Linked DNA regions of Homo sapiens: all the other regions are linked to region 1. Evidence: fine-mapped expression QTL. A gene starts in region 1. Each other region holds a variant in brackets. All regions are shown on one strand. Distances are from middle to middle.

Region 1 (5,053 bases):
TGTCACAACTGGGAGGGGGCCCTACTGACACCAAGTGGGCAGAGGCGAGGGTGCTGCCGAACGTCCTACAACACACAGGATGGCCCCTCAACAAAGACTCGTCCATTCCAAAACAGCCACGGTGCCAAGGTGGAGAAGCACTGAGAGAGAGACCTTCCCAGAGGCAGAGCCTGGGGCTGCCAGACTTTCTAACCAAAAGCTCTCAGTTCACTGGCAAAGACAGTCACCAAACAGATGCCCAGGAGATCTGATGGGCCTGCGTTTACCTCCCTCCCTCACCCTGCGCCCAAGGACACAGTATATGCTCTGCGTCAGTGACTGAGACATGGTGTTTTTCCTGTATTCCTGTTCAATTCCTGCCCTGGAACTCTGGGCCCGACTGTGGACATGTCCCCTCACCTGCAAGGGACTCCATCAGGGTACTGCTCTCTTTAGCACCTGTGGGCTCTCCTCCTGGCTCCATCTTGCAGAACACCAGCAGTTGGAACAATTTCTGCTTAGGTAAAAGAAAAGGAAAATAAATCACAGCCAGGGCTAGGTACAGGGGCCAGGGGCAGTGAGGTCAGAATGCCTTCAGAGGAAACTGTCAGAACAGGCCCTGTGGGAGCTGCATCACCCAGCTGGGCCCACTCCTGTCACTAGCAATCAAGGTCCTGGCTCAACAGACACTCCCAGAAGCGGGTGTTCTGTTCTGTGGGATGCCCAGGAACTCTGGTCCAGGCTCTGCGGGTCCCCCTCCACCCAGGGCTGACGCAGAGCACAGGTGGGCGTGGCCACAGCTTCCTAGCTCCATGCTGAGGAAGCCCGCGCCCTCCAGCAGTCTTCAAATGTCTAGAGAAATTCCCATGGGTTTTAAAATTTTCTTGGTAGTTATAAGGATTTGAATATAAAAATGTTAAACCAGAAGAAAAGAACAACTTATTTGAATGGTAAAGTTTTGGAATGAGGAATGATTTTTCTAAGCCTGACATCAGATGTCTGACAAATTCAACTACATAAAAAAATTTAATGTAAAAAAAAAAAACCAAAAAGGGAGGAATACGTGCAATGCAAAGATTCATCCCTATCTGATAAAGACCTCTATATATTAATGAGAAAGGAAGGAAAATTGGCAAAGATCATGAATAGGTAACTCACAAAGAAGAAAAACCAGTAGGCAATACATTTTTTTAGGTCTCACCTCAAGTGCAATTAAGAAATGTAATTTGGCTGGGTGCTGTGGCTCACAGTTGTAATCCTAGCACTTCAAAAGGCTCAGGATGGAGGACTGACTGATTACAAGAGTTCCTGACCAGCCTGGGCAACATAGTGAGACCCCGTCTCTACAAAAAATCAAAAAATTAGCCAGGTGTGATGGTGGGCGTCTGTAGTCCCAGCTACTAGGGAGGCTGAGGTGGGAGGACTGCCTGAGCCCAGGAGGTCTAGGCTGGGGTGAACCGAGATTTCGCCACTGCACTCCAGCTGGGCGTTGGAGTGAGACCCTGTCTTAAAAAAATAAGTAAATAAAGTGATTAATTAGTAAATTTAATTTAAGCCGCCTGTAATCCCGCCTGCCAGGGAGGCTGAGCGGGAGGATCGCTTGAGCCCAGGAGTAGGAGGCCAGCCTGGGAAACATAGCGAGACCCCGCCGCTTTTACAAAAAGGTAATTTAAAGTGCAATTTTTTAGTCTGGAAGCAGATTTTTGCAAGTACCTTACCGGCAAGAATTAGGGAACAGGCCCTCCTGTTCACAGCTGGGAAGAAGCTCGATGAGCTGGGCCGGTGGGAAATTTGACAACTTACAAAGGCCTGAAGACGCGCAGCGGGGACTCAGCTCGCAGGAAGCCCCGCACGTGTCGGACCCCGGGTACGCACCTGCAGGGCCGCCTCCCCCACGCCGCGCCCGAGAGCGGCTGGGGCCTGCACTGCAAGGAGAGCGCGGGACGCGCGGGCCACGGCGGCGGTGACCGCCCCGTTCTCTCGGCCGCGCCCTCAGCCCTCCCGAATCGACACCCCAGCAAGAGAAGCCGGGGCCTCAGCGTCCAGAGCAGCTGGACTGCACCCGCTACGGTCCCCGCCCCGTCGCGCGCCGGAAACGCCAGTCTCCACCCCTGGCCCGCCCCCTCGGCACTTCCGGCGACGCTCTGGGCAGCGGGAGGACAGCGCGCTCGGCGGCGGGAGAGCGGGACGGCCCAGCCGCGGCGCCTTCAGCTCATCGGTTGCCCGCAGGCGCCGGCCGAGTCCTTCCTGCCGGGCAGGAAGCCCTGCCTCGTGGGGGGCAAGGTCGAGCCGTTGGCGCGCCGGGATCCGGCTCGAGCCAACTGAGGACCGGGCACCCGCAGGACGTGTCAGGAGGTGTCGAAGGCCCGCTGTGGGGCGGCCACGCGCGTTCCCGTCCGTTCCCCGCGGCGTCCCGCGCTTGTCCCGGGTCCCGCTCGGCTCACGGGACCCTCCAGGCCCCCGGGGCTGTGGCAGCACGCGGGTCCCGAGCGTGGGCTTCCTTGGGGCCGAGAGCTTGGAGCGCCCCAGGCGCTGCCCCCCGCCTCCCTGCAGGACGCCGCCCTCGCGTCTCCGCTGCAGAGAAGCCCTTGCTGCCCGCCTCTCGCGGGCTCTGGGCTCTTTCTCACCAGGGACCGAGCTCTCATTCGTTCAGCCTTCCCCGGGCAAGATGCACCTCCTGTCCAAGTCTCTCGCCCTTCCGCCTGCCGCAGACCGAAGGTCACGCATCTCCAGCTGGAATGCTGCAAAAGTGACGCTTTTCATCATGGGTGCAAAGTGTACAGCTGCAATGTGGACTTGTTCCCTCTTACAACGAGTAGACAGACCCTCTCTGGGGAGAAAAGAAAGGCTGAAGAACCGATTCCCATGAGAGAACCCTAAGAAGACAGCAACAGAGGGCCAGACGCGCCCCTGGAACTGGACCCTGGACTGGGGCGGGAGGGCCACAGCCTTGGGAGCCCAGGTCCCTGCCCGCGCCTCCGACAGTCCCGCGCCGCCGCCACCCGGCATCTGCCTCTGGGCCTCCACATCTCGTGCCTGGAACCGCGTTCATTGCGCACTGCACCAGTAAACACCTGAACACTCCCACCACATGCTGCACGTTTATTTGTAACAAATTAGAAGCTGTTGTAAAAGATAAAAATTAAAACACTTAGACTGGGTGGGCGAGAGGCTCATGAATGTAATCCCAGCACTTTGGGAGGCCAAGGCAGGAGGATTGTTTGAGTCCAGGAGTTTCAGACCAGCCTGAGCAACATAGTTAGAACCGTGTCGACTAAAAATTTTTTTTAAAAATTAGCCGGGCGTGGTGGCCGGCGCCTGTGGTACCAGCTACTCGGGAGGCTGAGGCGGGGGGACCACTTGAGCTCGGGAGGCGGAGGCTGCAGTGAGCCGAGATTGGCACTGCACTCCAGCCTGGGTGACAGAGATTCTGTCGCAAAACAAAAACAACAACAACAACACACACCACACACACACACATCTAAAAGAGATGATGTAGAAGTACAAGTAACCGTTTCCCTCTGCATCCCAGTGGAACGTCGTGGGTCTTCTGAAGACCCTCTCTTGCCCTGCAGGCTCCGGTACTCCAAGCACGCGAGTCTGCGCAGGAGGCGCTTCGCTCTCCGGAGCTCCCCACTGCCTCCTAGACACAGTCCCGGCTCCTTACCCCGGGCGGAGGCTCTTCCAGACGGGTCCCGACTGCCTCTGTATGCCCACTGCTGCCGTGCCAGAAGCCACTGCCCTCTCCTCGCCCCTTTCCAAATGTGCCCTGCCTCAGGCCCGTGTCATGCTGTTCCCTGTGCCGCTTTCGCCCGTCCCCTCACTCCCCGCCACCAGAACCGGGAAGGCGGTGCCCCCTTTCCAGGCCCAACTTCCGGCACTGAACCTCTAGGAGTCCGCAGCCTCCTCCGCCCGGGCCTCTCCCCGCTGGCTCAGACCGCAGGGCCAGCAGCCCCGCCCACACGGAAGCCCCGCCCATCAGGCCGACCCCGCCCCTCCTGCCTCGGCCCCGCCCTCGCCTTGGCCCCGCCTCCTCGCTGGCAGCCGGCAGGCGCAGTCGGGGTCGTGGGACCCAGGAGGGGCCTCCAGCAGGTGCCTTGGCGAAGATCCTGGACTGCGTCACAGCCCAGGGTAGCCGTCCCGCGGCCCGGCTTTGGAGCTTCCCACGGACACCCGGGGCTCTGCCTCCTCCGAAATCACCCCTCACCGCTTCCCTCCTGCTCTCCCACAATGGGAGGCCACACGCTGGGGCCCCTGAGAAACAGAATCGAAAACACAAGGCAGGACTCCAGGGACATGGGGGTGGGGGAGTGAATCCAAGCAACTCAGGACGCCCGCGAATAGCTCAGATCCTGCGAAGAGCCCGCGCCCTGGAATTCTGTTTGCTAAGGGGGTCCTCACGGTGTAGGGTGAGACAGAGAACCTCTGGGCAGTTGCAGGTGGTAAATGTCCATGATAAAGGGCAAGTTCACAGTCTAGAAAATTCTGGATTTCTTGATCCAAAAGTAGCCGAGTCCAGGCCGGAGAGGTGGCTCACGCCTGTAATCCCAGCACTCTGGGAGGCCAAGACAGGAGGATCACTCGAGGTCAGGAGTTCGAGACCAGCCTGGCCAACATAGTGAAACCCCATCTCCACCAAAAAAAAAATTACAAAAAATTAGCCAGGCATGTTGGTGCTTGCCTTAGTCCCAGCTACTCGGGAGGCTGGGGCAGGAGAATTGCTTGAATCCAGGAGGCGGAGGTTGCAGTAAGATTTCGCCACTGCACTCCACAGTGAGACTCCGTCTCAAAAAAAAAAAAAAAAAAAAAAAAAAAAAAAAAGTAGCTGAGTCTTAGAATACCACCCCTTCAAGGACTGTTTCCATGAGCCTATCCACTGAGTCTCTTACCTGCTACCCTGAAAAAAAAAAGTACGATGAAGAAATTACCAAAGGCACCCCTGAAAAACAAAGACAGCTGGGCCTGGCGCAGTGGCTCACTCCTGTCATCCCAGCACGTTGGGAGGCCGAGGCGGGTGGATCACCTGAGGTCAGGGGTTTGAGACCAGCCTGGCCAACACGGTGAAATTCCATCT
Region 2 (5,053 bases), 68 kb before region 1:
CGCTCATTCTCATTTCCACACCCTACTAATTATCAGACACCTCCCCTCAACCTCTGCAGGCCTGCGGTTTAGGCTCCTACTGTCTCTGGCCTGACCAAGCCCTGTTTCCTCCTGACCTGCGAGCAGTGTGCCCACTGGTGCCATCATCTCTCTGCAACATACAGGGGATCATGTGGGGGTGGTGCTCCCCGGTGCCCGCACCATCGTGTCAACACGCGCCAGCCCTTCCCCAGCCCCACCACGCACACACATGCAGTGCGGCTGACGCTCTCAGCACCCTGCCTTTCCCATGCACCCCAACGCCCCCCCGCCCCCAGCACCTGCAACTTCCTGCCTGAGCGCTTTTCTCAGTGCTTAGGGGTGCTGGCCTATGCCCGGGGCTTGCTGGAAGTGCAGTTGGCAGAGGTGGGGCGGCAAGGATGGCCCCTCAAAACCAGAGCAAACCCACTCGGAACTGTGTCCTGTGCTCTCCCAGAGGCCTCCAGGAGGACTAGTCCAGGGGCCCCGGCTCTCACCTGCTCCCCAACACGTGTACTTCCCTACTCCCTTACCTGTGCTTCCTGAGTCCACCTCCCGGATAAAATACCTGCAGGAAGAGCCTGCTTTGGAGGGAGCCGTACTCCACACTGGCCACCGGTGGCCACTTGCCGTGCCCTTGTACACAGAGCTCCCTCTCGGCCTGGAGGCCTTCGTCCATTCTGCTACCGCGGCCACATCCGCTCAATTTTCCAGACTCAGCCTCTGGGATCTCACGTCACCCCAGACTCACGGACCCCGACATGGCGCATCCTGCACCCCACGGGTGTGGCCTGGCGGCCCTCCTCCTCCCAAGCACTATGTTCAGGCTGAGTGGAGACTCTCGCTAGCAATGTGCAGGCTGCTAAGCAGATGCGACCCGGTGACAGCTTGCACCTCAGGCCTTGCTCCTTGAGCTCCTTGCTCCATGAGCTTTTCTCAAAATACGATCCTCTTTATCTTCAGAGTCGCAGAAGCGCTGCAGGGACTGGCGAGACTCCACCACGTCGCGGAAGCCAACAGCACGTCGGCCCAGGAACGCCCCTCCACCCCGGCCGGCCGCCTCCCACCCCACCTCCTGGGTGCCCGTCAGCACCGCGGCCCACGGAGCGCGCGAGCCCAGGGGCCCAACCGAGCGCAGCCACCGGACGCCCCGCGTGGCCACCGCGTGGGCCTCTCCCGCGCCTGCGCAGCCCGCCCCCTTCCCGGCAGCACCGGCGGCGTCAAGGCAGGCACGTGGCGGCGGCTGCGCATGCGCGGGCTCGGGCCTTCCCGGCGTCTCCGCGCAGGCCTCGGGGAAGCGGGGTCCGGGGGAGCCGTGGTGCGGTGGGACCGCGTGGGTCCTGGAAGAGCTGCAGAGGAGGTGGGACTCGGCCTGAGGGCGCAGGGCCACCAGGAGGGAGGGGTCAGGCGGGGCCCTCAGTGGCCCTCTTCCTGTGGGTGACCCAGGTCGCGCTGTTGGTGACGACCTCCCACATCCCTCGCCTCTCCGCGACTCCTCCGTGTACCTCCCCCTCCGCGCACGACGCCACCAACGTGTCCCCTCCTCCTCTGTGTCCCCCCTCCGTGTGCTTCACCCCTCAGTGTTTCCTCCATCTCCATGGGCCCTCCTTTTGTGTCCCCCCTCCAGGCCCCCTTGTTCTCTTCCCCCTTCGCTTACCCCTCCCGCTCGGTGTCCTCTCCCCTGGCTGCCCCACCCCTCCTCATCGCTCCCTTGGCTCCTGACTTTCTGCTTGGGCCCTGCACCTGGCCAGCGGTGCCGGTCTGGCTGCCTAGGAAAAGGGTCTGGAAACGGCCGTCGCTGATGGGATTCCGCTCTGTCTTCTGCCCCAGAGTGACGGCTTTGGATGCGCTTTGCCCCAGGGCCTTTCTTCCCGGAGTTGGCCTTTTCCCTGCCCTTCTCTTCTCCTGGCGTGGTGACCTGCCTCCCTTCTCCTGGATCGCTTTGCTGGCAGCCACCTTGTAACACCTCAGGTTTGCAGCTGTTTTTTTTTCTTTTGGTCTGGCGCATCTAAAGCCATAAGCTCCCAGCTAAAACCCAAGAACAGGCTATTTTCAGGGGAGTCTCTATGCAGCATTCAAAATAGTCTACTTAAGGGCCGGTGCGGTGGCTCACACCTATAATCCCAGCGCTTTGGGAGACTGAGGCAGGAGGATCGTTTGAGCTCAGGGTTTGAGACCAGCCTGGGCAACATAGTGAGACCCTGTCTCTAAAAAAAAAACCAAAAAACAGAAAACAAAAAAAACGCTTTACTTAATAGTGATTTAAAAAACATGAACATGATGGCATATCACACCCAGGAATATGCTCCAGACCGGCTAATGGAAACTTTCTAGTGAGCCTGGTTGCGTAGTAATGGGGTCAGGAATAAGCACCATCCTTTGGTGGTTGGAGCCAACAGAGGCTCGTGGCCGGTTGCCTCTCCTGCCCTCTCAGCTGCTGCTGTGTTTTCGGTGTCACTCCAGCCGCAGGTGCAGCAGTGTCCCTGCTGCCTGGGTCCAGGCTCACCTCTGTGGAACGGTCCTGCTGCTCACCCCAGGGCCCTGGAGA[T/C]GTGTGTGTTTTCTTGCAGGTGGGGACACTCAGTTGCAGATAGGTGATGGGAGACAGTCGGGGCCCAATTTGAAGCAGTTGCCAGTGGATGATAAAGTTGCTCTCAAGAGGTAGCAAATACTTTTGGGAAGCAGTGGCCTTTGCATGTTTATGATGATGGATTTTGTTGCTGGGGGTGCTTCACCTGCTTGCCCAGCTCTTGTAACATTCGGGTCTAACCTCATCACTACAATGGTAGAGAATGGGGTGGAAGGAGCTGTCTGGGCTGTAGGTCCTGTCTGAACCACAGCCCAGGATCAGAACAGGGGAGGAATGGGAGGGGCGTGATGTCACTGCTTTCCTGTGAAGTTTATGTTTCTTCCTGTCAAAAACATCATTTTGGCACTGGTGTTGCCGTTTCTTCTTTGGAGTTACAGGAGCGTATTTCTTTGATTAAAGGAAGAGAGAGAGTACTGGGCAGATAAGGCTGGAAAATGCAAAGAAGCTCAAAGTGAAGAAGCCAAAGCATAAAAATCAGGGAAGACAGGGCGAAGACCAGGTTCCAGCCTTTTATTTACTGTGAATGTTTCATTTTTATTTATTTATATTATTACTTTTGTGTAGAGACAGAGTCTTGCTGTGTCACCCAGGTGGGAGTGCAGTGGTGATCATAGTTTACTATAACCTCAAACCCTTGGGCCCAAGTGATCCTCCGCCTCAGCCTCTCCAGTAGCTGGGACCACAGGCGTGTGCTACCATGCCCAGCTAATTTTTTTTTTTTTTTTTGAGACGGAGTTTCGCTCCTGTCACCCAGGCTGGAGTGCAATGGTGCAATCTTGGCTCACTGCAACCTCTGCCTCCCAGTTTCTAGCGATTCTCCTGCCTCAGCCTCCTGAGTAGCTGAGACTACAGTCGTGTGCCACCACACCCAGCTAATTTTGTATTTTTAGTAGATACGTGATTTCACCATGTTGGCCAGGCTGGTCTAGAACTCCTGACCTCAGGTGATCCGCCTGCTTCAGCCTCCTAAAGTGCTGGGATTACAGGCGTGAGCCACCGCACTTGGCCTAATGTTTTTATTTTTATTTTTGTAGAAACAAGGCCTGACTATGTTGCTCTGACTGATCTTGGACTCCTTGCCCCAAGCAGTCCCTGCCTCAGCCTCCCAAAGTGCTGGGATTACAGATGTGAATCACCACACCTGGCCTTAATGTTTCATTTTTAAACTCACAATCTTCAACATGTTCAATATGTTGTATTCTTAATTTTTGTTTTTACTCTCGAACTTTTTTTTTTTTTTTTGAGACAAGGTCTCACTCTGTCGCCCAGGAGTGCAGTGGTGATCATAGCTAACTGCAGCCTCAACCTCTTGGGCCCAAGTGATCCTCCCACCTCAGCCTCCTGAGTAGCTGGACTACTGGTGTGCACTATTGTGCTGGCTAATTCTTCTTTTTAATTTTTGTAGAGATGGGATCTCCCTATCTCCCTATGTTGCCCAGCCTAGTCTAGAACGCCTAGGCTCAAGAGATCCTCCTGCCTCAGCCTCCCAAAGTACTGGGATTACAAGTGTAAGCCACTGTGCTCAGCCTCATGAAGCTTTTTTTTTTTTTTTTTGAGATGGAGTCTCACTCTGTCGCCCAGGCTGGAGTGCAGTGGCACTATCTTGGCTCACTGCAAGCTCTGCCTCTCGGGTTCATACCATTCTCCTGCCTCAGCCTCCCGAGTAGCTAGGACTAAAGGCGCCCGCCACCACACCCATCTAATTTTTTCTATTTTTTAGTAGAGATGGAGTTTCACTGTGTTAGCCAGGATGGTCTTGATCTCCTGACCTTGTGATCCACCCTCCTCGGCCTCCCAAAGTGCTGGGATTACAGGCGTGAGCCACTGCATGTGGTCTTTTTTTTTTTTTTTTTTTTTTTTTTGAGACAGAGTCTCACTCTGTTGCCCAGGCTGGAGTTCAGTGGCGCGATCTCAGCTCACCACAACTTCTGCCTCCTGGGTTCAATCTATTCTCCTGCCTCAGCCTCCTGAGTAGCTGGGACTACAGGTGCATACCACCATGACTGGCTAATTTTAGTATTTTTAGTAGAGACGGGGTTTCACTATGTTGGCCAGGCTGGTCTCAAACTCCTGACCTTGTGATCCGCCCGCCTCAGCCTCCCGTAGTGCTGGGATTACAGGCGTGAGCCACTGCACCTGGATGAACCTTTTTGAAATGAGTATTTTACAAGTATAAAAAGCTTTTTTGATCATTTACTTAGATAAATTTAAAAATATGTACTTTGTGTTCACACAAGGTGCATTTATGTCAAATTTCAGAAGGGTTGGATCTGCTGCCAGCATGCTGCCTGGGTCGTGTGTAGGGTGTAGAAGGAGCTGGAGTTAGGTGTGGGGACTGCACGCTTGTCCATCCTGGGAGGGTTGGTTACTGGTTACCTGGAATCCTTTGACGGCTGCTGCCAGGCTTTGGTTGAACTGTAATGGCAAGCAGCCGTGGGCCGGGGAGTG
Region 3 (5,053 bases), 34 kb before region 1:
TCTGGACCCTCTTCTTTGGCCTGATGCCACCCCTCTGCCTTTCACGACAGCTTTGTGAGGTGGCACCAGCTGCCCGGCATCCTCATTCTCCCTCTGGTCAGCACTTCTTCCAGTCACTAGCAGAGCTAGGAAGGGAGGCAGTGTCACAAAGCAGCAGAACAGGAGTGGGTGGCACATCCGGCGGCCCCGGGAGACACAGGGACGGACCCTGAGCCCGTGGTTGTGGCCGAGCAGGGCTCCATCCTGGCACAGATGGTGTCGTACCTGAGCTCCTCGGAAGAGGCGGATCATCCCCATCCCACAGCGAGACACGTTTGACAGCAGCTCCTGAGGTCTCACAGGCCTAAGTGGCCGAGCCTGGACTGGGACCGTGAGCTGGTGCCCGCAAGCCTGGGCTTTTGTCCATGGGCTGTGCAGAGTTTTTGTTGTGTAGGAAACGAAAGGAGAAACAGTTGCCTGTGATCTGCGGCTCTCCCTCAGGTCAGTGTCTCCTGTTCCCGCGTCCTGGCTTTTCCTGGGCACTAGTTTTCGTGTGAGTGTGATCAGTGTGCCTGTAATGTTTTCCCCACTTAGCATTTTATCCCGCTTAGTCTCCACACGGGTAGATCATCGTCAAACTGTTTTCTGCTGTGCTTTCCAAAATTCACCTTGAAACTGAATCCCCAGCACCACAGGACAGAGGGAGGGCCTTTAGGAGCTGATTGGGCTGTGAGGACTCCACCTTGCTGCAGCCCTTAGGATTAATTTAGGGCCTTAGGGCAGGGCTGGGTGGAATTAGCTGGGCCCCTTCTGTCCTTCTGTCCCCTCCACTGTGTGAGGACAGCCTTCAGGGCATCCTCTCAGAAGCAGGGACTGGGCCCTCCATAGACGTCAAATGCTGGGACCCTGATCCCAGCCTTCCAGCCCCCAGAGCTGTGACTATGATTTACAACTGACCAGTCCCCGGTATTTTGTGGCAGCAGCACGTATGGACTGAGACTTTGCCCTCGCGAATCCCGTCACGTTCACCAGATGAGCTCCCGACCATGTATCCTGCTCTGTCCGGTCATGACGTTTCTGCAGTTGCCCTTAGTGCGGTCGTCATCCGGGTTTTCATACTGGAGAGTTTATTTAGGATGGATCTCAAAGTGGAATTATTGGGTGCAAAGGTTTTAGCCAGTTTTACTACTGACTTGTTGTGAAGTTGCTTTTGGAGAACTGTGCCCTCCGCTGCCCCACCCAACTCCATGCCTGCAATAACAGAACCAGCTCTATCTGTGGGGTCTGCGGGGAGAGGCTCTATTTACGGGGCCGCAGGACCGTGCGCAGGTTCTGCCTATTGCACACACGCCTCCGTCGGACATGGCGAGAGCGCGTTTCTGTCCGTCAGACATGGCGAGAGCGCTCTGCATGTCTGTCCTTCAGACATGGTGAGAGCGCGTGTCTGTGGTTTTTGCAGGAAATGGCGGTGGAAGAGAGGGAAGTCATCAAGAGCCTGGACAAGTGTGACTTCACGGAGATCCACAGATACTTTGTGGACAAGGCCGCAGCCCGGAAAGTCCTGAGCAGGGAGGAGAAGCAGGTTGGGCTGCCTCGAGCGTTGTGTGACCTGAAGTGGCCCCTGGGAACGAGAGGCCGGCCTGGCCCAAAGACTGAGAAAGGCCTGTGGCCTTAGAGAAGCCCCTTCTCACAAAGCTGCTCTTTTCTCGTCAGCCTTAGCGCCCCTGCATGTGCTTAAGTGTCGTTCCGCTTCCCCAGAGCACATTTGAGAGTAAACCCGGTTTGAAATGGATAATTTACCATCATTGATCAAGGGTGGGTTCCCAGACGGGCCGTGGGCTGAGGGCGGGGCTTGTGCAGGCCAGTCGGCTTCTTGCTGTTCTGTGCCATGCGTCTCCCTACATCTAACAGGAACCTGCCGTGCTGTGATCTCCATGTGGCCTTCTCAGGGATTCCCTTAGCCCTCCTCCTCCATGGCGGGCAGCCACGCTCCCTCCACCTGGCTTTACTGCTTAGGCCTAAAACAGCCGAAGTCTGTGCAGGGGCCGGGGAGTCCAGGCCATGGGGTGGTTAGGCCATGGCTCTCGGTGCCCCCTGCAAGCCCACCTGCACTGTCCCCTGCCCCTGCAACCTCCATGGATTGTGAAGGGCTTTGAGGGTCCAGCTGAGTTAGCCAGACAGAGCAGGGTGGTCCCGGGTTAGCAACAACGGACTGAGGCCTGTTCTCTTCTCTTCACTGCTAATGTCCACTGACTGTTTTATTAACTCAGAAGCTAAAAGAAGAGGCAGAAAAACTTCAGCAAGAGTTCGGCTACTGTATTTTAGATGGTCACCAAGAAAAAATAGGCAACTTCAAGATTGAGCCGCCTGGCTTGTTCCGTGGCCGTGGCGACCATCCCAAGATGGGGATGCTGAAGAGAAGGATCACGCCAGAGGATGTGGTTATCAACTGCAGCAGGTGCGTGGCCGGGCGGGCAGCAGGCGGGCACTGGACCCCCGCCACCCGGGTGAGGCTGGCTTTTCTTCACCTCCTGGGAGAGGGAGGCACACCGAGAAACATGTGGTTGGTGACCCCCACACCATTCCTGTGGAGCTCAGCCTGTAGGCGTGGCCGGGCAAGGGCGGCCTTCCCAGGGTGCTTCCCACGGGGTCGGAAGTCCTCGCCTTGCTATGGCTGAGACTTTCTCCCGCCAAGGACACCTCCATGTGGTTTTCATATCCCACACCATCTGGATGGCCCAGTAGCATTAGGTGTTTTGAACTTATTGGAGGGACATTCCAAGTGGTGGAGAGGGGACTGCTGGGCCACATGTTGTACTGTGTGACCACAGGGTGGAGTAGGGACCCTGCCTGCAGGACCCCCAGTGGCCAGGCTGTGTGGGGCAGGGCACTCGTCGTCCCAGTTGGTGCTGAGAGGTCTGTGCAGAGCGGTGCCTTGCTTGGGTGGCCGCCCAGCCTCCTGGTGCACTGTGGCCTTCCTGTGTGTGCAGAGGGTAGATTGAGTGGCTGCTTTTGTCTGAGCTGCCAGGCAGGCCACCTCTGATGCC[A/G]GACTCGGTCAGGAGCCATGCCACCACCATAGCCACCACGTGGGACGGTTGACCAGAGCAGCTCCTTTTGCTTGCATTCCAGAGAATAAGGTCTCCAAGTTATGTTTGGGTCGTTGTTCTGCTGCAGGGACTCGAAGATCCCCGAGCCGCCGGCGGGGCACCAGTGGAAGGAGGTGCGCTCCGATAACACCGTCACGTGGCTGGCAGCTTGGACCGAGAGCGTTCAGAACTCCATCAAGTACATCATGCTGAACCCTTGCTCGAAGCTGAAGGTGAGCGCAGGGCTTGGCAGGGTGTTTCCTCCCCAGGAGGTCCCCCTGAGGACGCCGGCAGGGAGGTGTGTAAGCCGGGCACCGGCAGAGGCTTCTGAGATGGGCTGGGAGTCGGCCAGCCCGTGCTGAGGTCATGCTGTGCCAGCAGGCACAAGCCCCAAAGCCAGGAGTGGGCATGGGTGCTCACTGCCGGCATCACCCAGCTAGATTTGCTGCCCCAGCCCCTGACCACGGCACCACTGAGTGGAGAAGCACGAGGTTTGGGGGAGGGAGAGTTGACAGCCTCCTCCGTTATTTAACAGGAATGTGAATGTTTTCTTTCCTGTTATTTTCTTCGTTTAGGGGGAGACAGCTTGGCAGAAGTTTGAAACAGCTCGACGCCTGCGGGGATTTGTGGACGAGATCCGCTCCCAGTACCGGGCTGACTGGAAGTCTCGGGAAATGAAGACGAGACAGCGGGCGGTGGCCCTGTATTTCATCGATAAGGTATGCGGCCTTCTCGCTTCCTGGCGGCTCTTCATCCTGGTTCTCCTGGCGAGGACTCCCAGTTGGATGGTGCAGTGTGGCGACGTGGGCCTGTGTGTGGGGTGGAACCTCATTCTGATGGGGGGGGTGTGTGCATGTGCACACGTGTGTGGGTGTGAACATGTGTGTAGGGTGTGCATGTGCATTGTGTGGTGTGTGTGCACTTGTGCGTGTGGTGTGCCTGTGTGTGGCATGTCTGTGTGGGGCGTGCATGTGTGTGGCGTGCATGTGTGTGTGGCGTGCATGTGTGTGGTGTGCCTGTGTGTGTGGCGTGCATGTGTGTGGCGTGCGTGTGTGGTGAGCATGTGTGTGGCGTGCGTGTGGCGTGCGTGTGTGGCGTGCCTGTGTGTGTGGCGTGCGTGTGTGTGTGGCGTGCCTGTGTGTGTGGCGTGCATGTGTGTGGCGTGCGTGTGTGGTGAGCATGTGTGTGGCGTGCATGTGTGTGTGGCGTGCCTGTGTGGCGTGCATGTGTGTGGCGTGCGTGTGTGGTGAGCATGTGTGTGGCGTGCGTGTGGCGTGCGTGTGTGGCGTGCCTGTGTGTGTGGCGTGCGTGTGTGGCGTGCCTGTGTGTGTGGCATGCATCTGTGTGGCGTGCCTGTGGGTGTGGCGTGCATGTGTGTGGCGTGCATGTGTGTGGCGTGCGTGTGGTGAGCATGTGTGTGGCGTGCGTGTGTGGCGTGCGTGTGTGGCGTGCATGTGTGTGGCGTGCCTGTGTGTGTGGCGTGCCTGTGTGTGGCGTGCCTGTGTGGCGTGCCTGTGTGTGGCATGCGTGTGTGGCGTGCCTGTGTGTGTGGCGTGCCTGTGTGGCGTGCCTGTGTGTGGTGTGCCTGTGTGTGTGGCGTGCATGTGTGGCGTGCGTGTTTGGCATGCCTGTGTGTGGCGTGCGTGTGTGGTGTGCCTGTGTGTGGCGTGCCTGTGTGGCGTGCATGTGTGTGTGTGCATGTGTGTGGCGTGCCTGTGTGTGGCGTGCGTGTGTGGCGTGCGTGCGTGTGTGGCGTGCGTGTGTGGCGTGTGTGGCGTGCCTGTGTGTGGCGTGCGTGTGTGGCGTGCGTGTGTGGCGTGCGTGTGGCGTGCGTGTGTTGCGTGCGTGTGGCGTGCGTGTGTGTTGCGTGCGTGTGTGGTGTGCGTGTGTGGCGTGCCTGTGTGTGGCATGCATGTGTGTGTGCATGTGTGTGGCGTGCCTGTGTGTGGCGTGCGTGTGTGGCGTGCGTGCGTGTGTGGCGTGTGTGG

Alleles and levels. Positions count from the first base shown, and alleles are read on the strand shown. Sizes are in standard deviations (SD) of each study's normalised expression. Not every link is listed here.
In carriers of allele A in region 3, the expression in thyroid of the gene that starts at base 2,048 in region 1 tends to be lower than with G alone (small effect, 0.31 SD a copy in GTEx).

What was found. PIP is the estimated chance that this variant, and not a neighbour inherited with it, causes the effect. A credible set is the group of variants that fine-mapping cannot tell apart.
Region 2: its variant is the best candidate, but not a certain one, in a credible set for the expression of ZNF696 in whole blood (INTERVAL, PIP 0.75).
Region 3: its variant is fine-mapped to the expression of ZNF696 in thyroid (GTEx, PIP 0.93).

The regions. Positions count from the first base shown.
Region 1 is chr8:143,288,412-143,293,464 of GRCh38, reverse strand. ZNF696 (zinc finger protein 696) reads right to left here and starts at 2,048. Exons shown (of 3, transcript NM_030895.3): 1 at 1,698-2,048; 2 at 400-493. The coding sequence starts at 463. RefSeq lists a silencer at 1,794-2,513 and an enhancer at 1,984-2,559.
Region 2 is chr8:143,356,200-143,361,252 of GRCh38, reverse strand. It overlaps a transcript of TOP1MT not described here. Among named protein-coding and RNA genes, the nearest start is that of RHPN1-AS1, 9.9 kb to the left of the region's middle. The variant T/C (reference allele first, on the strand shown) is at 2,567.
Region 3 is chr8:143,322,730-143,327,782 of GRCh38, reverse strand. TOP1MT (DNA topoisomerase I mitochondrial) reads left to right here. Exons shown (of 14, transcript NM_052963.3): 4 at 1,439-1,561; 5 at 2,250-2,437; 6 at 3,154-3,298; 7 at 3,641-3,784. Among named protein-coding and RNA genes, the nearest start is that of TOP1MT, 9.6 kb to the left of the region's middle. RefSeq lists enhancers at 4,063-4,724, 4,725-5,053. The variant A/G (reference allele first, on the strand shown) is at 3,027.